7 linked regions of the Homo sapiens genome follow. The protein of the gene in region 1 interacts with the protein of each later gene in a biochemical or structural test. Each region holds a gene or a part of one and is shown in the gene's direction. Other genes may lie near its edges. The genes, in order: SNCA, KIAA1191, MAP1B, ENC1, MEF2D, PLD1 and PREP.

Region 1 (3,500 bases):
TGTGTTTTTTGCAAGATTCTTCACCTCTGTGTGATTTAGCTTCCTCATCTATAAAATAATTCAGTGAATTAATGTACACAAAACATCTGGAAAACAAAAGCAAACAATATGTATTTTATAAGTGTTACTTATAGTTTTATAGTGAACTTTCTTGTGCAACATTTTTACAACTAGTGGAGAAAAATATTTCTTTAAATGAATACTTTTGATTTAAAAATCAGAGTGTAAAAATAAAACAGACTCCTTTGAAACTAGTTCTGTTAGAAGTTAATTGTGCACCTTTAATGGGCTCTGTTGCAATCCAACAGAGAAGTAGTTAAGTAAGTGGACTATGATGCCTTCTAGGGACCTCCTATAAATATGATATTGTGAAGCATGATTATAATAAGAACTAGATAACAGACAGGTGGAGACTCCACTATCTGAAGACGGTCAACCTAGATGAATGGTGTTCCATTTAGTAGTTGAGGAAGAACCCATGAGGTTTAGAAAGCAGACAAGCATGTGGCAAGTTCTGGAGTCAGTGGTAAAAATTAAAGAACCCAACTATTACTGTCACCTGATGATCTAATGGAGACTGTGGAGATGGGCTGCATTTTTTTAGTCTTTTCCAGAATGCCAAAATGTAAACACATATCTGTGTGTGTGTGTGTGTGTGTGTGTGTGTGCGTGTGTGTGAGAGAGAGAGAGAGACTGAAGTTTGTACAATTAGACATTTTATAAAATGTTTTCTGAAGGACAGTGGCTCACAATCTTAAGTTTCTAACATTGTACAATGTTGGGAGACTTTGTATACTTTATTTTCTCTTTAGCGTATTAAGGAATCTGAGATGTCCTACAGTAAAGAAATTTGCATTACATAGTTAAAATCAGGGTTATTCAAACTTTTTGATTATTGAAAACTTTCTTCATTAGTTACTAGGGTTGAATGAAACTAGTGTTCCACAGAAAACTATGGGAAATGTTGCTAGGCAGTAAGGACATGGTGATTTCAGCATGTGCAATATTTACAGCGATTGCACCCATGGACCACCCTGGCAGTAGTGAAATAACCAAAAATGCTGTCATAACTAGTATGGCTATGAGAAACACATTGGGATAAATCGGCTGCTATCATAATCATTCCTCTCCCACATCAGATAAATGAATTAACTTTTTGAATAGGGTTATTTAATATAAAGTGCTTAAGTCTAATTATGAGAAGAAATAAGATAATTACACTTCAATGGTTAAAGAGAGGGAGAATAATTTGCATATTATGCCTGATGTAAAATGTTTATTATGGGTACATATTAAGTGCTAACTAATTGTTAATTGTTCTTGCTACAAGTCTTAATGCAGGGAAACAAGAAATTATTACATAGTACCTAATATTATCTTCTAATATTAAAGAAACAATTTCCCCTAAATTCATCCCATTAGCTTTTTTTTTTTCGGTGGGGCAGGGGAGAAATACAGACTTCAGTAAACTTGGGCTGGGAACTTTCTACCTACAAAGTTCAAATAAAATAAATTATCCTAGTTAGATAATATCAATGAAAAATCCACCAACTTAAATCCTGGCTGTTTGATCTCAGGAAATTATTTCAGTTATCAACTTAATGCATCATATTATAGAAATATATGAAAATGTGTTTAATTAAACTTACTGAATGATATGTTTTTTCAGGTACTTTAAAAATAAACTATGATATAAAGTTACCTATTTTTCATGCAAGTATAGTATAAAGAAATTTCTAACACTGGAGATTTTCTGAAGGTTTTGATTCTTATAAATTTATTACATCATAATGAACAAAACTAATTTTCAACATATTATGATTTAAATTTCCTTAGTAAATTGTTTCAAATTTATTTTCTTTAAATCCATATTTACATATGTATATTTAAATATACATATTTACTTGTATAACAATTCAAAACCATATATTAATTTTATAATTTTGTTTAATGTCAAAGGTTAGATTTGGCTATATCTATTCTAAAAGTTGGTATCACATTTCCTTTTTGGAATTTTATTTTTAAAGTAGCTAAAGTCAAATATAAACCTATTATTTATATTAATGCAGACATTAGAGGTAGACACTAAATTCATTTTAGTATATTCTAAATTATTTATTATCTACTATGAAATAATATAAAGAAAAATAAAGCAGAATCCCTGATTTCAAAGAACTCAATTGCCGAAAAACAGTTACCATTTATTAGACCCAAAATGTACTAATATGAGTGTGTCTCTTTTCCTTTTGTTTTGTCACCCGTCATTTGGAATGTCAGTGAGTAGAGAGATAGTGTGAAAGGCCCTCAAGGGGAAAAATAGAGGTTAAAGGTCAGCAGAGACCCTACTAGAGAAATCAGTTCTACAGAAATGTTTTTAAATGTGTCGATTATTGCTACATGTACACTCTGTCATTTTGTAATGTAGCCATTTTATTTATGATTATAATAATAAAACAACAAAATTATAATAATGTGTAGAGTACATTTTACTGTGCAGTGTATTGCATTAAAACTAGATTAAAATTTATACATATATAAAAGGCTATCTAGATATTATAAAATTTATGGCTGGATCTGTAAAAAATTCAAAACCTATTTTTAATCTCGCTTTGAGATTTTATAACAAGAAAATGTTCGTTTCAAGCAAAATTTTCAATTCACGTCCTTGAAAAGGAAAAAAATGACAACTTGAAACACATAATTGACTATTTTTAAAGGATCAACATTTCAGAAATGTTTTAAAACATAAGATTTTCAGTACAGCTTTTCGCTGGCATTTAAATCGAACTTTGAATTGTAAATAGCTCTTGCTCTTAAGGAGACATCAGCCATATCCTTAGAAGTGGCACGGAGTTGTTAGGTAGTTGTACAAAATTCTAGCCTAAAAGACAAATAGGGAGCAACACTACTGTGGACCGTTTCTGGTCTTGGGCTGTGTGGCTATGTCAGGCTTGCCCACATTGCCTGTACTAAGGAGAAAGCCTCTTGTCCTTACAGACCCCCTTAGCTTACATAGTCTATTTGAAAACAAATTGCTTTGTCCACACCATTTAAATATTGGCTTCAGGCCAGGCGCGGTGGCTCACGCCTGTTATCCCAGCACTTTGGGAGGCTGAGGCGGGCAGATCACGAGGTCAGGAGATCGAGACCATCCTGGCTAACACGGTGAAACCCTGTCTCTACTAAAAATATAAAAAAATTAGCCGGGTGTGGTGGCGCGCACCTGTAGTCCCAGCTGCTGGGGAGGCTGAGGCAGGAGAATGGCCTGAACCCGGGAGTCGGAGTTTGCAGTGAGCCGACATCGTGCCACTGCACTCCAGCCTGGGTGACAGAGCAAGACTCCGTCTCAAAATAAATAAATAAATAAATAAATAAGTAAATATTGGCTTCTTCAACTGGTGAGATGAAACCTATACAATAGTCATGTGAATAGCACTAAACAGCTGACATGGTGTAACTCCTCTCAGACTGAGGCTTATCTGGGGAGTACAAAGCATGTC
Region 2 (3,101 bases), on another chromosome or scaffold:
TTGTTTTGAGACAGAGTCTCACTCTGTCACCCAGGCTGGAGTGCAATGCTGTGGTCTCAGCTCACCACAACCTTCGCCTCCCAGGTTCAAGCAATTCTCCCACCTCAGCCTCTGGAGTAGCTGGGACTACAGGCGCCCACCACCACGCCTGGCTAATTTCTGTATTTTTAGTAGAGATGGGGTTTCACTCTGTTGGGCAGGATGGTCTCAAACTCCTGACCTCGTGATCTGCCCGCCTAGGCCAACCAAAGTGCTGGGATTACAGGTGTGAGCCATCACGCACCACCTATACTTTGATTTTCTTATTCACATCTGTTGAATCAGCAACACTACTTTTATTTTACAAGCTTGAGAATGTGTTCTAGCAGTGTTACAAAACTTATTCATTGTTCTTTTAGCACAATGTAACTTTTTTTTTTTTTTTGAGATGGAGTCTTGCTCTGTCGCCCAGGCTGGAGTGCAGTGGCACGATCTCGACTCACTGCAAGCTCCGCCTCCCGGGTTCACGCCATTCTCCTGCCTCAGACTCCCGAGTAGCTGGGACTACAGGCGCCTGCCACCACACCCAGCTAATTTTTGTATTTTTAGTAGAGATGGGGTTTCACCTTGTTAGCCAGGATGGTCTGGATGTCCTGACCTCTTGATCCGCCCGCCTTGACCTCCCAAAGTGCTGGGATTACAGGTGTGAGCTACTGCATCCAGCCCCATGTTGCATTTCTAAATACAAAGAAAATGTCACCATGTACAACTAAGAGGAGGGTGGGAGTATTGTCCTCAAGGTTCTTCAGCTGTCCCTTTAGGAATAACCTCTTCAGCTTGGTGTGAGGGAAGGCTTCCTTCTGGCTAGAGAGCCTTTGTGTGAGGTTCAGAATTACTGCTGTGGTGCCTCTCTGGGGAAAGTCTCCTCTTCTTTGAATGGTCAGTGTGGTCTCTTGCTTCTGGGGAGAATAGTAGATATCCATGTTGTCCTCCTTATTTTGTGATGGGAGAGGGGAATGGGCATGACTGTCATCTCCTCTGTTCCCAGAACAGACCCAGGAAAGCATTCAGCATTTTGAGCGACAGGCAGGGCTGAGAGATGCTGGCTACACACCCCACAAGGGCCTCACCACCGAGGAGACCAAGTACCTTCGAGTGGCCGAAGCACTCCACGTAAGCTCTTAGGAACTTTGAAAAAACAAAACCTTCAGTGTTCATGGCTTGAAATGTGGCTGTGGTTTTGAAGTTACCAGCTCAGTTAGTTGGGGGCTGTGGAGTTAGTCTCGCTCCCGAGCTCTTAGCCTCGTAGTTTTTGCTTATCCACCTATACAGTGGGGTGTCTGTTTTGCTACTTCTGGTTAGCAGAATCAAGTGAGAGCCTCAGCTTACATATACATAGGAGTACTTTATGAATCATAAAGCAAATGTGGAGTATCTTGGGGAGAACTGGGCAGCCTCAACAGAGGTAACAGCTTAACTGGAAAGGAACAAGTTAAAATCAAATGTGGAATTGGAATGTTTTTGCTATTTCATTTCTATAAGTGAAGAATTTTGGTAAGGGTTAATTTAGTGATAGCCAAGTATTTGAATGAATAGTTTCAAATGACTTTCTTTCAGTGAAGACCGCTTCATACTGGATAGTGTTTTATGATTGTGAAGCACTTGCATTCATTTCATCCTCACAATCACCTTTTGGGACAGATGCTCTTCTCCATATTTTGTAAATGAGGAGATTGAGGTTCGAGGCCATCTATTCAGCCAGTCATAGTACCCGAACCCAAGTCTCCTGATGCCTTACTTCCTGTTGGCTTCTTCCTCCTCATTCCAAAGCAGCCTGGAAATCTGGCTCCTGAAGGGGCTCATATGGAAGTCAGGGGCAGATTGTGAAGAGACACAATTACAGTTAAGAAACTTGGGCTGTCTTCTTTAGGCAAGGGGGGGTCAGAATCCAGGCTTGTTCCAAGCTTTATTTTAAGAGTTCTGAACAGGGTATGATGAGGGCAAGGTGAGGAGAGCACACGACGCAGGAAAGAATCATGGTATACATTATACATAACGAGGAATAACCCGGATCTGGTGGCCTGTGGGTGGGGATATAAAACTGTGGATATAAAACTGTGGCCTGTTTGCAGTCACCCAGGCTGGAGTACAGTGTTGTGATCTCGGCTCACTGCAACCTCTGCCTCCCGGGTTCAAGTGATCCTCCCAACTCAGCCTCCCAAATAGCTAGGATTTACAGGCATGCGCCACCATGCCCAGCTGATTTTTAGTAGAGATGGGATTTCACCATGTTGGCCAGGCTGGTCTTGAACTCCTGACTTCATGTGATCCACCTGCCTTGGCCTCCCAAAGTGCTGGGATTACATGTATGAGCCACCGCACCCGGCCCTGTTTGCATTTTGTAATGAGCATTCCAGATGATTCTTTTGCAGGCTAGGTTTAAAAACTGCTATAGGAAATCAGGTTTGGGCTGGTGGCCAGTTTAAGCTTTCAAACAAGACAGAAGCTTCCAGAGAGGGGCACCGGCAGCCTTTGACCCTTAACTGAGAACTTTCCAGGATAGGTCAGTGAGAATTCTATTTGAGCAATTCACCTTATATAATGGTAGGATTGACTTTGGTTGACCCACTTTCTGTGTCTTGCCCATAGGAGTAGAACATGAGGATGGCTGAAATATTAGCTGTAACTTACATCTTGTAACAGATTGTCAACTTACATGAATGGATCTGTTGAGCGTTTGAGAAAATTCAAACGTGATCATTGTTTGGTGTGCAGCTTGGGTTAAGCAGTGGCGTGGCAGGCCTGGAGGGAGGAAACAGCATGGGAACCTTGCTCTAGAAGAGCTGAGATGTAGACCTGTCTCTCCCCACTAGACTGCGAGTCAGAGGAATGCTCACGGTGCTGAGGGAACCCAGAGTGGCTGACTATGGGAGAGAAGGAGGAGAGAATGGAACAGGCTCCTCAGAGGAAGCATTTAGCTGGAGAGAAGCAGCATGCCTGAGTATTGGCTTGGAGAGACTGAGGATGGGCAGGGCTTTGTACATGGTAGGAGCAGCAGCGAGACAAGAGCTTAAGCCCTGCTTAAAAGGCCAAGAAGGCTGGCAGCTAGCGTTCTGGCTCTT
Region 3 (3,500 bases), on another chromosome or scaffold:
AAATGCAAACTGAGGCTATTAATGTTTCCAGGAAGAGCCATAAAATTCTCCCTTATAATTTGACCTTTCCTTAAGCACGTTAACTCTTCCACATCTGAATTCTTCCCATTGATCATATGAGAAATTTCTGCCTGTATTTAGTGGACACACATCTATTTGAAAATATTCCTCCTGGTTGAAAAGGTCTGTGGTGTGTAATCTAAAGATATTTTAGATGTGCAGTGAACTGAGTTTCCAGAATCTTTTTTTTTTGTAATGTCTATGTATAATCCACCTTGATTCTTTACAGGATAGGAAGACTGAATACAATATAACCAAGGGTAAATACAAATATGCCTTAAGGATCCAGTGTGTATTTAAGTAACACACTGCTATTTATTCCTTCAAGTCTGTATACATGACTAATGTCCAACAAAAATGATTACATGACTGGGTGTTAATTTAGAGATAGTTCACCTGCTGTGTTATACCTAGAGGTTCAAGCCCTTACCTTTAGGAGGTATGCAATAAATGTCTGTTGTTCTAGAGATTTGTTCCTGGCAATTGAGAATGCTGTATACAAAGGTACAATGATGGATACCACACACTGGCTCCACCATGAGCAACCTATTAGGAAAAATGTAATATATAATATGTAAACATGTAAAACACACACACACACCAGAGTTCTGGGGTTCCCCAACTTTCCCTGGCTTACTCTCCAGACCTCCCTTCTATGATGCTCTCTGGGGTTCCCTCTGGGCCATCCCCTTTGGGAGGGCAGGAGAAAGAGGACAGTGGGAGGAGGAAGGAAGAGGCTAGAGAGTAGGGCATGAGCACAGGAAGCTGCCCTCATCCCGCCTCTTGCCCTCCTGTTCCTCTCACCCTGGATATTCCTTTCAGCCTAGGGAAAGGAAGTCTGATAGGACTTCCTTTCCGTTCAGCCTAGGGTAGGAATAGCTGATTCATGTCCCCAACTCCATAAATGTTTTATAAAGTATAAAAAGTTGCCATTTTTCTTTGCCTCTGGATAAGAAAATTGAATACAATGAACAATTGTGAATAAAAGAGCTGCCTGCCAAGCTACTCAGGTAACAGAAAAGTGCCTGGAAGGACAGACAGGCCAAGTCTTGAAGATTGAGTGGATCCACTCTGTTTATCAAAGATCACATAAATCTTGGATTGATATCCAGGGCTCGATAAACCAAAGTCAAAAACGGGATTGGTAAAGGAAAGAAATTACACATGTATACTACCAGAACATCATTTTAGAAACAAAGGCCCGTGCTTGAATGGCAGCCCCCGTGTATTTTCTTTGCCTTTATTCTACATTTTCTTGCCACCTACAAGTGGAGTTAGTCTGTCTACAAGCTAGAGTTAGTCTGTTGGCCTCTTAGCTTCTTAAGAACTAACATCTTCCTGCCCTTTCTAGTCCCTCCCTGGAGTACAGCCTGTCATTTTCCTAACAACTGTTTTCTTTGACTCTTCCAGAAGAGGTGCATTTACTTTTTATGAGGGGCAGAAGCTCAGTCCACACTGCTAATTATCCCTCCCTTGTGGCCTGGTGGAGAGACCTCCCTGGCCCTCCCATTTTGTGGGCATCCACTGCTAAGCCACCAAGCTCTTCAGAAAAGGAGTTCCCACATCCTCCCTGAAAGCCTGAGAAATATTACAGTGATGTTGTCCAAACCACTCTGAAATGACTAACTGGAAGTCTCTCAACTGTCTTTCTTTCCCTCCCTAGGAATCCGATCATGGGACACAAACCTGATTGAATGCAACTTGGACCAAGAACTCAAACTTTTTGTATCTCGACACTCTGCAAGATTCTCTCCTGAAGTCCCAGGTGAGGCTTCCGCTCAGTGTTGGTCAGCCTAGAATTCCAAAGGACAAGGAGCAAGCTAGAAAGCTTTGTCTGAGGCAGCAAAAAGACTCTCTTATTGCTAAAAGGATACTTTGTATTTGTTATTATCAACTAGGTTAGCCAGCAGCCACAGTTTAGGAAGTCACTCTAGGTTATCACTGTGTGGGTTATCTATTTTGTGGATTCTTAATGAGTTTTTAAGTTCTAGGGTTGTGTATGTGTATATATATACACACACACACATCAATGATCACACAAATTTTGAATTGATATCCAGGGCTTGAGAAAGAGAGAGAGAGAAAGAGAGAGAGATAGTATAGTGTGTGTATGTGTATCTCACTGTACTCTGAGCTCAAGGGACTACAAACTATTTAAATGTTAATCTTACTCAAATGAAATTCTGAATACAAATTGGATGCTCCTAGGATCCCAGAACTGTCTTCCTGCAAAAGAAAAAGGAAACATATACTGCATTTCAAAATGAAATATACATCATCATTTCATAATTGCATTATCACCCGCCATTGCATTACCACTTATCTTTCTTCGTGTGGGTAAAAGAATCTGATATTACAAACTTCTGTTAAAATAGCCTTTTTTTCAGAGATGAAAAAGAATATCAAAGAATAATTAAAGGTAAGGATGCAAAAATTTGTCATATGTGAAGATGTTCCCACTAACCAGCCACCTTCCTGGGGCTATGATCTGACCCATGCCTCTGGCGCTGGAGATGTATTCATACTGACCCATCTCGTCTTCTTCTTGTGAGCAATAACCTATATTCCTCCCATTTGGTCACATTTAGGAATTATGAGACAGTTTCTGGCCCATAAAGACTCCAAACCTGGAATATATTTCTCCAGACCTTTGCCATTGACCCATCAGAAACACTGTATTACATCTTATTTCTTGACCATCACTTGAATTTTACATAAGAGAAAGCTATTTTCTGCCCATATGCTTTTGTTATATGATTCCTAATTTTATTGGCATTGATATAACATCAGGAATGAGATTCAGCCTATTTTGACTGGTTAGGTCATATTCCATTAGTCGTGTATATACATTGATATTTGAAATCACTTTTATAGAATATCAGTGCCTTCGTGAATCACATTTGGCTGCAGTAATATGCCCATAGGACTGTCTCAGTTCTTCCTTTTGAGTTTAATATTAGAATAAAATCCCATACATTTCAGTTATTGAAATGCATTGTAGCTTTCAAGTATGGAATTGAGTAAATGTGCTAAGAAAAGCTTAGCAAGAAATGGTTTATTAAAAGTTAACTTCCTGCAAAGCCACATGAAAAATCAGTTTTTAAGTAACTTTGCTTTGAGAAAAAAGGAATCCAGAGACTGTCAGACAGCATATGATTTGCTGAAGGAAAGGTACAGTATAAGGTTGTTTCTCTTGTTGTTATTTTATTGTATTTTTGTCTTGCGATATCTCCGTATCTTTTAAAACCATCTCACAAAAAAAATGAGGGAAGTGCTGTTTTCCAAAAAGTATGATTATTTCAAAATGTAAAAACTACAAGCTTTTATTTTTTCTCTGTAGGTTGTTCTGGCTTTTTTACTATGATTGTTTGTAAGACTTCTTTTTTTGTGTGTACAAGTCATGTGGTTCTCATTGTGTTCATTCATATTTGGACTGACTT
Region 4 (3,500 bases), on another chromosome or scaffold:
TTTGCATTTTGAACTCCTTCTATGCAGGTGTCAGCATTTGCAGGTATACAGGAACAGTCCTAGTGATGCACTATTTAATCAAAAGACGGATGGATCTTTTGTTCTTGCAGCTGGTTTTCCAAGAATTGATATAAAGCGGGAAGAACAGAAAACAGCAGTCATAAGTATGCTACTCAAAATATTCTTCTTTTTATGTGCCAAATCCTCACATTGGAAGCTGTCCCGAGCAAGACAGGTAGTTGGTGATTATGGCCAGAATTTATTCTGTGCTTTGACTAAAGGCTTGCTGATCAATATATGGTTAATGTTGAAATTGGGGTGCTTTTAGGACTCTTCAGTGGTAGAGCTGTCTGGTTAGAAATTAATCTTTAAGTTGGGATGCCGAGGTGGGAGGATCAGGTGAGGCCAGGAGTTTGAGACCCGGTCTCTACAAAAAATACAAAAAATTATCTGGGTTTGGTGGTGCACACCTTTAGTGCCAGCTACTCGGAAGGCCAAGGCAGGAGGATCACTTAAGTCCAGGAGTTCGAGGCTGCAGTGAACTGTGATTGCACCACTGCACTCAAGCCAGGGTGACAGAGCGAGACTTGGTCTCAAAAGTATATATAAAATGAAATACATTATCTGTAACATTTAAATAAAGGTCTGATCATTGCAGAAGTTGGCCTTACATTTCCCATTTACTGTATGTGCTGGGAGATTGGATCTTACCAAAGGAATTCTTAATGGAATTAATTATTAGGTGTTTGTTTTACGCATGGCTTTATGTTGCATGGGGCATGAAAGCCAGTGCCCATCCTGGCATTATAAGAGCAGGAGACCTGGCATTTTAAGTGGCCCGCAGTGAATGAGCTGGACTAGGACAGGGAGCTGTGGGAATGAGACTCACTCCTCTTGGCTTTTGCTGACTTATATTCTAAAAGACTTCGATGGCCTGAAAGTTGGCAATCAGGTTTTCCAAGATGAACCTGCTTTTTATGCAGTGATTTTTTTTTTTTTTTTAAACAGTGCAGAGTTCAAATAGCTCAACAGTATTAGCAGTGAATATCCTTCCTTCCGGGTAGTTGTCTCTGGCTTTGTCCTGGAATGGCCATACACTATTCTAGAATAGTAGGTGGCATGGTCAACAACAAAGTGTTCTGTTTTTTGTGCAAAACCATTGTTGCTTTCGTTCTGCTGTTCTGAACATCAGGAGCATCATTTTCAATTTATTATTATTATTATTTTTAGGAGTGGAAACAAAATGTCAGTCAGTGTGCATGAGAACCGCAAGTCCAGGGCCAGCAGCGGCTCCATTAACATCTATCTGTTTCACAAGTCCTCCTACGCTGACAGCGTCCTCACTCACCTGAATCTTTTACGCCAGCAGCGTCTCTTCACTGACGTCCTTCTCCATGCCGGAAATAGGACCTTCCCTTGCCACCGGGCAGTGCTGGCTGCATGCAGTCGCTACTTTGAGGCCATGTTCAGTGGTGGCCTGAAAGAGAGCCAGGACAGTGAGGTCAACTTTGACAATTCCATCCACCCAGAAGTCTTGGAGCTGCTGCTTGACTATGCGTACTCCTCCCGGGTCATCATCAATGAAGAAAATGCAGAATCGCTCCTGGAAGCTGGTGACATGCTGGAGTTTCAAGACATCCGGGATGCATGTGCAGAGTTCCTGGAAAAGAACCTGCATCCCACCAACTGCCTGGGCATGCTGCTGCTGTCTGATGCACACCAGTGCACCAAGCTGTACGAACTATCTTGGAGAATGTGTCTCAGCAACTTCCAAACCATCAGGAAGAATGAAGATTTCCTCCAGCTGCCCCAGGACATGGTAGTGCAACTCTTGTCCAGTGAAGAGCTGGAGACAGAGGATGAAAGGCTTGTGTACGAGTCTGCAATTAACTGGATCAGCTATGACCTGAAGAAGCGCTATTGCTACCTCCCAGAACTGTTGCAGACAGTAAGGCTGGCACTTCTGCCAGCCATCTATCTCATGGAGAATGTGGCCATGGAGGAACTCATCACCAAGCAGAGAAAGAGTAAGGAAATTGTGGAAGAGGCCATCAGGTGCAAACTGAAAATCCTGCAGAATGACGGTGTGGTAACCAGCCTCTGTGCCCGACCTCGGAAAACTGGCCATGCCCTCTTCCTTCTGGGAGGACAGACTTTCATGTGTGACAAGTTGTATCTGGTAGACCAGAAGGCCAAAGAAATCATTCCCAAGGCTGACATTCCCAGCCCAAGAAAAGAGTTTAGTGCATGTGCGATTGGCTGCAAAGTGTACATTACTGGGGGGCGGGGGTCTGAAAATGGGGTCTCAAAAGATGTCTGGGTTTATGATACCCTGCACGAGGAGTGGTCCAAGGCTGCCCCCATGCTGGTGGCCAGGTTTGGCCATGGCTCTGCTGAACTGAAGCACTGCCTGTATGTGGTTGGGGGGCACACGGCCGCAACTGGCTGCCTCCCGGCCTCCCCCTCAGTCTCTCTAAAGCAGGTAGAACATTATGACCCCACAATCAACAAATGGACCATGGTGGCCCCACTCCGAGAAGGCGTTAGCAACGCCGCAGTAGTGAGTGCCAAACTTAAGTTATTTGCTTTCGGAGGTACCAGTGTCAGTCATGACAAGCTCCCCAAAGTTCAGTGTTACGATCAGTGTGAAAACAGGTGGACTGTACCGGCCACCTGTCCCCAGCCCTGGCGTTACACAGCAGCAGCTGTGCTGGGGAACCAGATTTTTATTATGGGGGGTGATACAGAATTCTCTGCCTGCTCTGCTTATAAATTCAACAGTGAGACTTACCAGTGGACCAAGGTGGGAGATGTGACAGCAAAGCGCATGAGCTGCCATGCTGTGGCCTCTGGAAACAAACTCTACGTGGTTGGAGGATACTTTGGCATTCAGCGATGCAAGACTTTGGACTGCTACGATCCAACATTAGACGTGTGGAACAGCATCACCACTGTCCCGTACTCGCTGATTCCTACTGCATTTGTCAGCACCTGGAAACATCTGCCTTCTTAAATGCAGTACATTCTAAAGAGAGTGAGCATGAGGTAAGAAGTTTAGCTATAGATGTAAGTATGCATATAATTAGGCTATTGTGTAAGTTCAGTACATGGGGTGAGATCTGATCCACAGAGACTGTACTGCAGAAGTACTACCAAAGCTGTAAAAATAAGAGAGCTGGTGCCCCTAGAACTTATCCACTTGTGTTGACCACAGCCTCAGCCCCCACCATGGCATTAGCCAGTGGTTCTCAGCTTTTACTGAGCCTCAGAATCTCCTGAAGAGCTTTTTATTTATTTTATTATTATTATTATTATTTGAGACAGAGTCTCGCTCTGTCACCCAGGCTAGAGTGCAGTGGCATGATCTTGGCTCACTGCAAGCTCCGCCTCCTGGGTTCACACCATTCTCCTGCCTCAGCCTCCCGAATAGCTGGGATACAGGCGCCCACCACCAGGCCTAGCTAATTTTTTGTATTTTTAGTAGAGACGGGGTTTCACCA
Region 5 (3,500 bases), on another chromosome or scaffold:
GACTTACGCTGGCCTGGTGTGGGCCCTTGGTTGGACACTTTGCCACACACCTGAGTACCTTTATGGGGACAAGGGAAGTCCAGGAGCAAGTGGGTGGGCCCAACATTTCCCTAGTTCTATTTGAGTCAGGCCCCCTGCTTCTTTGCCCCTCTAGTCGAGAGAGTGGTGGCCTTACTGGAAAAGAGGAGTTGAGGGCCTTGACTTAATACAGGCCTTGACCTCTTGGACACAGGTCATCGTTGGTGTTCATCAGGTTCTATAAGTGGGTATGAGGATCCGATGTGAGCCTGGAACCCATCATCAAGGGTCAGGTTCTGAGTCTCATGGCACTGTGGTGCTGGGATTCTCCCCATCCCACGGGACCATGGCTGGGACTCTCGAGGCTCTCTCAGGCCAGCTGGTTTGAGGCAACTATCTCTTTTTTATAGAGAAGGAGGAAATGGTGGCAGGCCGGCACAACCTCAGCATCACTGTAATTGCTGGTGGCTTTTATGAGCCAGTCATGGGGCCGGAGTCCGGCCAACTGTCTGTCCTTCTGTCCCAGTTTGGTGACTTACTCATGGAGGGAGGGGCGGTTAGGTACTAGAAGCTGTGTTCTAGAAGCTGGACGTCTGACTGTATTGTGGTCGATGTCACTCTGTCTATCCATGATCACAGCAGGTAGGATGGAGCTTAGACTTCAGGAAGAACTTCCCAGTGGGGAAGCTGGGGGGGAGAGAGATGGCTCTAATTTTGCATAGGAAAGGAGGGGAACTCAAAGCACTTTCTTTTCCAGTGGCTCTCCCGAAAGGAAAGGCCTTGACCTTTGGCTTGGTGGGGTCGGTGCTATTTGGATCTCGGAATATTTATCTTCTTTTTCCTCTCCCTGCTTATGGCTGAAAGTATTCTGAGGCGTTTGTCCTGGAGCTGTGGGAGAAATAGCCATTAGGCCCCTTTCCCCCAGTAGTGGGAGCTAGATAAGGGTCTCATGTAGACAGGCATGCCCAATGCAGTCCACAGCATTTAGTGGTACACATGCAGGAAAGTGTGCAACACATACACACTGGTATGTAGACACCCACAGAGCAGCTGCTGCACTGCGGGAGGTGGGGGGTAGTGAATGGCAAAGATGATTAAAGGATTGGAGAGTTGGGATGGGGTTGAGGGGACCGGAGGCAAGAAGGCGAAGGGCATAGCAAGAACTTTGAAGAGAGAAGGGCTGACTGGAGCAGGAGGGATTAAGGTTAGACCACAGATGGGCAGGCAGAGCCCTGTCTGCAAAATAAAGAGCATGGCTTGTGAGTCAAGGAGCCTTGGCTGACTTCCATCCCTGCCCCTTACCCCTCCCCCACGTGCCCCTCTCTGTGTTCCTGGCACAGCCTGCCTCTGCCCCTCACACTGACCGTGTGTCCCCGGGTCCCTCCTCTTGGGCCCCAGCTTTCCAGATGTACAGAGTTTCGCCTTTCGGTGATTAACACCTGGGTGTTTTGGTGGTTTGTCGCTGGTCTCTGTTGCCCTCCCCGCTCACCCTGATGAGCAAGGCCACTGTGAGGCATCAAGACTACATCTAAGCCATCAGGCATCTGGGGGTAGATCCTTGGCCTAGGTGATCCCCAAGGCCCTCTTCATCTGACATTTTCCTTTTCCTGAGGCTGAGGCTACAAGCCTCTCTTTCCTGAGAGCCAAGTTATGCTTCTGGTTAGTCCTGGCTGGTGTGGAGACAGGGGAATGCATTCATTGATTCTGCACAGGACCCTGATAGCCAAGGGGGCGGGAGGCACTTGTGCCTGTCTGACTTCTTTTCTTTCTGCTGTAGGCTGGGAGGGGAGGGACATGTCCGAAGCTCTGGCCTGTCGCTGGCCACACCCAGGTGGGACCATATTTACTCATTTAAACTTACCCTCCCAGGAGGCTCTGGGCTCTAGGCCTGGTCACTGACCTTGGCTTGGTGCCTCTGGCTGGATGCTGTGGCCACTCTCCTAGGAGCTGAGCAGACGAGGAAACCATGCAGAGGGAGCTTTTTTTTTTTTTTTTGCCCCCTGGTCAAAGGAGCTTTACCCTCAGCATTACCCCTCTTGCCCAACTTTCCAGTATACTTTGAAGACCAAAAACCACAACTTTTTAATTTTTTTTGAGGTAGGATCTTGCTCTGTTGTCCAGGCTCGAGTGCAGTGGTGCCATCATGGCTCACTGCAGCCTCCCATTCAAGCGATCCTCCGGCCTCAGCCTTCCAGGTAGCTGGGACTCCAGGTGTGAGCCATCGTGCCCCGCCCAAAAACCAAAACTTTTGAGATCCCAATGAAGAGAGGTGATGGGTTCTCAAAAGGGAGGAAGGAAACTTCCATTTCTTATGTTCCTGTGTGCCAAGCTTTGTACTGAGCATGGGAATATAAGAAGACTGTTTCTCTCTAAAACTGTTTTTTTGAATTGGGAAACTGAGTCTCAGAGATGTAAGTGACTTTTAAGCTTTCCTAGTTATGAAGTATAAAGGGCTTTTGTCTGAGATTAAAGGAGAGATCCTGCCCTGCAGGACGGGGCAATGGAAAGGAGGCCCACGGAGACCTGAGAGGAGGAGGAGAAATTGAAGGGAAGAGAAAACCAGGATTCCTCAGCAGAGGGCAGAGAATCAGCCTTTGGTGGCAAGGTGAGGAGGGTATTGTTTTGACTTGAGTGTCATGGAGAAAGCCCCCAAAGCAAGGGTGTGAGGGCAGGAACAAATGACACTCCGAGACCCCTCCTGCTGTCCCTGTGAGCTGCCGCATGGGATGAATGAGAAGAGACACTAGAGTGGGAAGGCTTGGACCACAAGAGGCTGGGCTTGTCTCAAGGCAGACACAAGGCCAATGTGAGCCTCCCAGGCCCAGACCTGGGGAATGGGCCCTGGAAGGAATGTGCTAGAACTCCCCGGTGGAGGGAGACTCCCTCCCACTCCCATCCAGGTTGTAAGCAGAAGCCCTGTGCCCAACAGTCAGTCTGCCTCTGCCCCTTATTTCTGGTGACCTTGAGGAAGTCCCTGCCCATCTCTGTGTGAGTTTCCATACCTGTGAAAGGGAGGTGGTGCTACCTGCCTCACATGGGAAGGGAAGGAGTTTCCGCCAGAAAAAGTGTGATGGTTGCATCTTTTCTCTCAGACCTTCAGCCCCAGCCTGGCCCAGGACTGGCCTGCTAAGGCAGCTACCCAGAAGCAGGGGTGGGGGCAAGGAATGCCTTTGGTGTCCAGGGTAGGGATTGAGGAGGCCTTGAGGGTTCCTCCTGGCCTAGGGCTCCGTTTGGCCCTGGGATGGGTTGGGAAGCTGAGCCCAGCCCTCCCCTCCCCATCCAGCCGTCTCCTTGTCTCAGAACCTGCCTCCTCCACACTTAGCCCCACGAGTCTTGCCAGATCCCTCTGGCTGCATGCTTGCTTATCCCTCGTGATTCTCTCATCCTCAGCCCACCAGCAAATACCTAGGGTTGAGGGTTGAGAGAACAAAGAATACGGGGAGAGCCCATCCCTGAGTTTCAAGTAGAAATGCACGGCAGGC
Region 6 (3,500 bases), on another chromosome or scaffold:
GCATTGCTGAGTCTGTTCTTCTCTTGTAAGAAAAGAAAACAGATTCAGTGGAATTTTGGCTGTCCCATATTCAGCTTTGTTTTCCATTTTAATTAAGATTTATTTTTTATTCAGAAATAAGATTCATAAACAAAAATATGTGGCAATTGAGATTTAGGTAGTAAAAAGCCTTAAGTATCTGCCACAGTTTTTGGAAAGTTCCTACTTAAAGATATACAAAAACAGGATAGGTCAGTCTGGGGTCATTTAGAGGGAATTTGAGCCAGAAGTGAATAACTTCCCAAAGTGCCTTTTAAATAGAGCTGCCAAAATATCTGTATGTGTATATCAATCTGCTTGCTATTTCAACTAAATGGCTGCCAGAATATGAATACACTTATTAAAAAAAGTGTATATCAATCTGCTTGCTATTTCAACTAAATGGCTGCCAGAATATGAATACACTTATTAAAAAATTTGATGGGCTTCATCTTATTTACTGCTGGAAAATAGTGCAAAACTTATGCAAAAATAGCAATTTAGTGCATAAGGAACAGGGAAAATGATTGACAGAGGAAGCCTTGCTTACTTAATGTTTATTAGAGGAACAAGTTCAGGAGCTCAACACTGAATGTAACCCATGTAATTGTATTTGAGATTAAAAGTTTAATTGGAGTGAAATTTCAAGAATTTGGCCTACTGAAAAAAGACCATAGCAGAACTCCTCATATTCCTTTGGTAGTTTTTAAACAGTTCACAAGAATCCACCACTACCCTGTGGCTGACCTCAGACATTATTGCATGTCTGTTATAGAACCTCCATCATTTGTAAACTTTATACTTCAGCTCTACTTGAATTAAAGAACCACACTGCAGCATGTCTTATGCAGTGTCTTTTTTTAAAAAAAAATTTTTCTCAGCCTGCCGCAATGGAGTCTATGGAATCCTTAAGACTCAAAGATAAAAATGAGCCTGTTCAAAACCTACCCATCCAGAAGAGTATTGATGATGTGGATTCAAAACTGAAAGGAATAGGAAAGCCAAGAAAGTTCTCCAAATTTAGTCTCTACAAGCAGCTCCACAGGCACCACCTGCACGACGCAGATAGCATCAGCAGCATTGACAGCACCTCCAGTAAGTCATGGCCTTGACTAGAATTTATCTTAACTACCCACTGTTCTTCCATAGCCAGACACTACATACCTGTTTTTAAAATCTGTCTTTCTGTAATGGAGTAGAATGAGCAATGTTGAGAGGTCGCTATATCATTCTATTCAACCTCATGCCATTTGGTGGCTTTGTTTGCCTCATTTTAGAACAGATTTATTGTTTTATCCACACAAAAGTCATAACGACCACGATTACCACTTCTAATGGTAGCAGAATGACAAAGGGTTTCTAAAATATGCCAAGCCATAAAAGAAAAAGGTATTAGATGTACTTTATAAACTTTTCTTAGAAGAAATTACATTTATCTTCCTATCCAGAAATATATCAAGCTTATTTCGTCAAACATCAGACTTTCTACATCTTGTAAATTTACTATTCCTTTGAAATCCATCTTAAAGCCCTACAATTTTCTGTTGCACAGAATCTTAAGACTGATGTTATAGCCCTGCCTGGTTTTAAAAATGATCAGCTTTGCTTTCCAGTTTAGAAAATTTGATATTTGTATTTTTTTGTAAAAAAATTCTTAATTTCTCTAGGTTATTTTAATCACTATAGAAGTCATCACAATTTAATCCATGGTTTAAAACCCCACTTCAAACTCTTTCACCCGTCCAGTGAGTCTGAGCAAGGACTCACTAGACCTCATGCTGGTAAGTAATTTGTGAAGTGGCAGAACTCCCTTAGGCTTGAGCTTTGGTTGTGTTGTCTGCTGCATGGGCATAGTGAATGTGTTTCCAGATTGGCTTTCTGTTTGCAATTTTTATGCTACGTATATTATTGAGAGCCTGCTCTGTGCAAAGCATTCTGTAGTATCCAAGATCCCTACTCCCTAAGAACTTATAGCAGCAAAGACAAAACAGACCTAATAAGAGAAAATGCATGGCACATGCAATTCAATAGTGTCATGGAAGTTCTATGGAAGGAGGGAGGAATTCCTCTCTGATGATGCAGAAAGACTTTTTGAGGAGGGGACATTTGGGTTAGGCCTGGAAGTAATTTAATTGGGGTAGGTGATAGGAAGTCATTGCAAGTGAGGGAGGTGAGTTGAGCAAAGGTGCTGGAATGGGAAAGCACCAACTGCTTTCAAATTGTGTAAAATGCATTATTTAGCTAAAATGCAGTTTTTGATATAAGACTAAGAAGATATATGACATTCACATTTGGGAGCTGGAATTTTATTTGGTTAAAAATCTTTTTTTTTTTTTTTTTTTGAGATAGAGTCTTGCTCTGTCACCCAGGCTGCAGTGCAGTAGGGCCGTCTTGGCTCACTGCACCCTCCGCCTCCCAGGTTTTAGCGATTCTCCTGCCTCAGCTCAGCCTCCTGAGTAGCTGGGATTATAGGCGTGCATGACCGTGCCTGGCTAATTTTTGTACTTTTAGTAGAAATGGGGTTTTGCCATGTTGGCCAGGCTTGTGTTGAACCCCTGACCTCAAGTGATCCGTCTGCCTTGGCCTCCGAAAGTGCTGGGATTACAGGTGTGAGCCACCGCTCCTGGCCAGTTAAAAATCTTGAAGGCCTTTGGGTGGATGTGTCATGCTGTGTGAATTTTCAGAAATTACAATCTGATAGCCTTTGGTAAGAAGATACTCCAGATACTCGAGGAATTAATGAATGACTAATAAGTTTAACTTGTGGTGGGAATAAAGAAGGATTTGGCCGCTGGTCAGATATGGGGATAAGTAATCATCATAATAAATGACACTAGTAAGATCATAAGCTAACATTTATTTTGCACAGACTCTATCCATCACTGCCCTGAGTAGTTGCAGTGCTTGGTAGTGATATTGTCATCTCCTTTTTACAGATGAAGAAACTCAGGGTTAGAGATGATACATGACCTGCCCAATGGAGTTCCAATTTATCATCCTCCCAGTGCCCATAATTAAGACCTGTGATTTAGCAGAAATAAAGATTACTATGTTATGCTTTTTTGGCTAGAACCTAAGGCCAGGGCTCTCATGTCCTGTTTAGCAGATGAGAGTTACAGTCTAGCTCACATGCCTGAATGTGAGTCACCTGTGGCTTGCAGGTGCTAATGAACCTGAAAAATTATGCTAGACTTTGAGTAATGATTCCCAGCATTCTTTCATCTAGGGCAGGGGTGTCCAATCTTTTGGCTTCCGTGGACCACATTGGAAGAAGAATTGTCTTGGGCCACACATAAAATATACTAACACTAATGATAGCTGATGAGCTAAAAAAAGTTGCAAAAAAAAATTACAATGTTTAAGAAAGTTTGTGAATTCGTGTTGGGCCACATTCAAAGCCATCCCGGGCCGCATGTGGCCCACAGGCTGTGGGTTGGACAAGCTTGGTCCAGCTACGCTGCATTTTAAAAAATGCAATAATC
Region 7 (3,500 bases), on another chromosome or scaffold:
TACCAGGACCCCAGTGCTTGGGGCTGGTCAGCAGCTCCAGGTGAGAGGGGTCTCCTCAGCATCAGAGACCACCCTTAAGATATCTGTACCTCTCTTCTGTTTCCCATGCCATCCCAAACCAGAGGCCTGAGGCTCTGGATTTTTTTTGCATCAAATCAAATCAGCGAACATGAGGGTAAACCTGTTGTAAAGAGATTTCCATTAAGTACCTGTTAGGTACCATATGCAGGAAAGGCTTAGAAATGACCCCCGGGCATCCAGCATGCACCCCAGGGGCTGACAGCAGACTCCTCAAGTGCACCTTAGTGAAAGTGAGTGCCCCTGGCCGGCCATCTGGTCCATCGTTGCCAGTTATCATCCCCAGAAACTACTGATTGTGACTGTCTTTGAAACTGCAAAGAATTCATTGCATAATTTTGAGCTGATATTAGAGTTTACACTAAAATCATACTGTGAAACTGATATTAAAAGATGAGTGATAAGAGGATAAAATTTCTGTATACCATATGTTTGATCCCAAATATGTATGCTAATTCTGAACCCCTTGACTCACCTGATTTCCTATTTAAATTGTATGTAGTTTATGCACCATACCCCCTACTCATGGTCCCCTGATCCTGGGATCCTCTCCTGAAATAACTGGATTATTCTCCAGAAAACCCCTCTGGTCATCAGATGTCCACCATGCTCTGAGAGGGAAGAGTAATTTGGTCCTAGTCTGCTCTCTCATTTTTTATTAGTTAGAACCAAGTTATTTTCCAGTCTTGGGATTAGGCAGGTTCAAGATTGACTAAGGCTAACAGTAGACTATGTTTAGACTGATTTATAAACTTCCTCAAAATTTAGGCCATGATGAAAGGACCAGAAATAGACCTTTTCCAGTTATAGCCTAGGATATGATACACTGGTAAATCTAAATTCCATTCTGTTAATTGACTTTAAAATTTAATGCTCTTTTTAAAATGTAGTCATATACCCAAAATATTGTTATTCCTAGTAACTAAGTAATCCTAGCTGTTCTAAATTCACTGGTAATTTCTTACTGAAATCTTAATAACATTTGTTTTGATATGAAAAACATTTCAGTAGGACTGCTTTATCTTTAATTAAATTTCAGCAGAAGTGGTTAATCTCAAGTATCTAATTAGATCTGTGTCTGCTCTTTGTTCATTTCAAAGGCCGTTATTTCAGACATCTGTTCCTTTGAGGACATGCTTTTGACTTTTGGCCTTTACTTATAGATATTTCATGGCCCTGTAAATGTTTCTCCAAGTAATTTGTTTGGTTTAATACACTGGAACGATTTGCAGATGATAAAGCCCAGATTCTCTGGGGAAACGTTGAAGATCTTTCATTCTGGAATTGAGAAAACATAATGTGATGCTCTGCCGCAACGCTACCTCACCACCCAATTCCTTTTGTTCTTTCCATTAATAACCGAGGGCAAGACTGGGGAATTTCTTTCTCCCCATCACCGACCATGTCAGACTCCTGCAGAGGTGGGGTGGGAAGCGTGCCTCTGCAGAGCGCTTCCACCTCCGTCTTCGCGGGGAGGGGAGACACGAGCACTCCCACAGCCAGCTCCGGCTCGGGTGCTGGGTGCAACCTAGAGGACTAAACACTGCTGCAGGTCTTGCTTTATATTTGTAAGTTCAGCTTCCCAAAATACAGGTTCCTTGTGATGCCATGCTTCTATCCTTTCATTATCATACATCTCTCATAACCGACCATCTGTTCCCTTTGGGGCATTTCCCGTTTAAGTTCTAGAGGCTTTTAGAAAAATACAGATCCACCATATGGATTAGCATTGTGGTATTGATGATATATTTCCACAGTGCATAACAGAACTTAAATTGAGGCTTTTTTTTAAATGCAGTGTTAACCCATGGTTTTTAAGTTAATCAGTATTTGAAACCGTGCTCTATCATTTGAATTCCCATTAGATTAAACTTATTTTTATGTTTTGTTAATTAACTATCTTCCACTTTGGCACACTGTAGGTGGTATCTTGGCCAACAAACAAAACTGCTTTGATGACTTTCAGTGTGCTGCTGAGTATCTGATCAAGGAAGGTTACACATCTCCCAAGAGGCTGACTATTAATGGAGGTTCAAATGGAGGCCTCTTAGTGGGTGAGTACTGGATTTTATTCATTGCACTTACTAGTTAGCCCTCTTGGGGTTTTCAGATACACCATCTGTAGGCAGCTCTTGACTTAACTTTGTGGATAGGACCACAAAGTGGTATAAGGAGAGCAAAACCCATTTGTACCATTTGTATTTGGGTATCTGATAAATGACATACGAAGAGACCCTATTTATTTTGCCTTGGGCAGGTCCTGAGATCTTGAACAAGTCCCTTAATCTCCCTCATCACTGTGAAAGCAAGTGGGGATGGGAGGAGGGGATACAGGGTTTCCAGAAAGTCCTCAAGCTTTTCAAGATTCACTTTGGGGAGTAAAGCTCCATTACTGATGAGAATCCCCACCCCCTCTGACAGATCTCAGAGTGGGTGGGGAGCTTTGGGGCTATTGGGCAGGTGATTTCTGATGGTTTCCTCTTGTGCTCTGGATAAATGCAACCAGGGCTCTGGAAGCATGTAAGTAAGTATTGCCTTGCCTTGTTTATGTAGATGTTTAATGATAGACTGCCTCCCTTTTCTTTCTACGTTGGGCTTTTAGCTGCTTGTGCAAATCAGAGACCTGACCTCTTTGGTTGTGTTATTGCCCAAGTTGGAGTAATGGACATGCTGAAGTTTCATAAATATACCATCGGCCATGCTTGGACCACTGATTATGGGTGCTCGGACAGCAAACAACACTTTGAATGGCTTGTCAAGTAAGGTTTTATTGACATATATATGTTGTTAGTGGTTTGATATAAAGTTGAACACAGTCACAGCAGGATTAGTGCTTGAGCTTTGTCACTGTCAGGGTCTTGCATTTGCATATAATCTGCTGGAGAGGAGATGGGACTACCTACTTGTCTTTCTTGATTTAATATGGTCTTGAACAAAAGCAACAAACTACAAAAAATGTGGTAGGGCAGAATTCTACAGATGGCCTCCCAAGATTCCTACCCTGGTTATTCAAACACTTACCTAGATACTGCTTGCTGTCAGGGAGCAGGATATTCATCTGCTGCTCTTTGGATTATCTCTTGAGGGGTCCCAAATCACATAAACCCTTAAAGGCTGAGCACATTCTCTGGCTGGAGTCAGGGATGCAGCAGAAAGGGAGGTCAGAGAAATTGGAAGCTTGTAAAGGATTCAGCCTGCCATTGCTGGTTTTGACAATGGAGGAAGGGGGACCTCTAGAACCTGAGAGCAACCCCCAACCAATAGCCATCAAGGAAACAGGACCTAAGTCCCACAGCCGCACAAAACTAAATTCTGCCAACATCCCGAGACTGCAAGTAGGTTTTTTCCAGAGTTTCCCCGTAAGAGTCCAACCAGCCAACACCTTGACTTTGACCTTCTTTGACCTTGGAAGACCCAGAGCA

What was found.
Region 2: the proteins of SNCA (region 1) and KIAA1191 form a complex in vitro, tested with the Homo sapiens proteins (one study listed by BioGRID).
Region 3: the proteins of SNCA (region 1) and MAP1B form a complex in vitro, tested with the Homo sapiens proteins (one study listed by BioGRID).
Region 4: the proteins of SNCA (region 1) and ENC1 interact in a test that uses a peptide from one of them, tested with the Homo sapiens proteins (one large-scale study listed by BioGRID).
Region 5: the proteins of SNCA (region 1) and MEF2D form a complex in vitro, tested with the Homo sapiens proteins (one study listed by BioGRID).
Region 6: the proteins of SNCA (region 1) and PLD1 form a complex in vitro, tested with the Homo sapiens proteins (one study listed by BioGRID).
Region 7: the proteins of SNCA (region 1) and PREP form a complex in vitro, tested with the Homo sapiens proteins (one study listed by BioGRID).

What each region holds. Positions count from the first base shown.
Region 1 is NC_000004.12:89,823,662-89,827,161, reverse strand, and holds part of SNCA (alpha-synuclein), read left to right. Parts: intron 1-3,500. UniProt on the Homo sapiens protein: Neuronal protein that plays several roles in synaptic activity such as regulation of synaptic vesicle trafficking and subsequent neurotransmitter release.
Region 2 is NC_000005.10:176,348,664-176,351,764, reverse strand, and holds part of KIAA1191 (putative monooxygenase p33MONOX), read left to right. Parts: intron 1-1,027; coding exon 1,028-1,152; intron 1,153-3,101. UniProt on the Homo sapiens protein: Potential NADPH-dependent oxidoreductase. May be involved in the regulation of neuronal survival, differentiation and axonal outgrowth.
Region 3 is NC_000005.10:72,113,975-72,117,474, forward strand, and holds part of MAP1B (microtubule-associated protein 1B), read left to right. Parts: intron 1-1,723; coding exon 1,724-1,825; intron 1,826-3,500. UniProt on the Homo sapiens protein: Facilitates tyrosination of alpha-tubulin in neuronal microtubules. Phosphorylated MAP1B is required for proper microtubule dynamics and plays a role in the cytoskeletal changes that accompany neuronal differentiation and neurite extension.
Region 4 is NC_000005.10:74,634,229-74,637,728, reverse strand, and holds part of ENC1 (ectoderm-neural cortex protein 1), read left to right. Parts: intron 1-27; exon of another isoform or gene 28-235; intron 236-1,230; 5' UTR 1,231-1,243; coding exon 1,244-3,013; 3' UTR 3,014-3,045; intron 3,046-3,500. UniProt on the Homo sapiens protein: Actin-binding protein involved in the regulation of neuronal process formation and in differentiation of neural crest cells.
Region 5 is NC_000001.11:156,494,276-156,497,775, reverse strand, and holds part of MEF2D (myocyte-specific enhancer factor 2D), read left to right. Parts: exon of another isoform or gene 1-1,849; intron 1,850-2,014; exon of another isoform or gene 2,015-2,623; intron 2,624-3,500. UniProt on the Homo sapiens protein: Transcriptional activator which binds specifically to the MEF2 element, 5'-YTA[AT](4)TAR-3', found in numerous muscle-specific, growth factor- and stress-induced genes.
Region 6 is NC_000003.12:171,684,984-171,688,483, reverse strand, and holds part of PLD1 (phospholipase D1), read left to right. Parts: intron 1-899; coding exon 900-1,113; intron 1,114-1,685; coding exon 1,686-1,799; intron 1,800-3,500. UniProt on the Homo sapiens protein: Function as phospholipase selective for phosphatidylcholine. Implicated as a critical step in numerous cellular pathways, including signal transduction, membrane trafficking, and the regulation of mitosis.
Region 7 is NC_000006.12:105,281,083-105,284,582, reverse strand, and holds part of PREP (prolyl endopeptidase), read left to right. Parts: intron 1-2,000; coding exon 2,001-2,132; intron 2,133-2,680; coding exon 2,681-2,837; exon of another isoform or gene 2,838-3,500. UniProt on the Homo sapiens protein: Cleaves peptide bonds on the C-terminal side of prolyl residues within peptides that are up to approximately 30 amino acids long.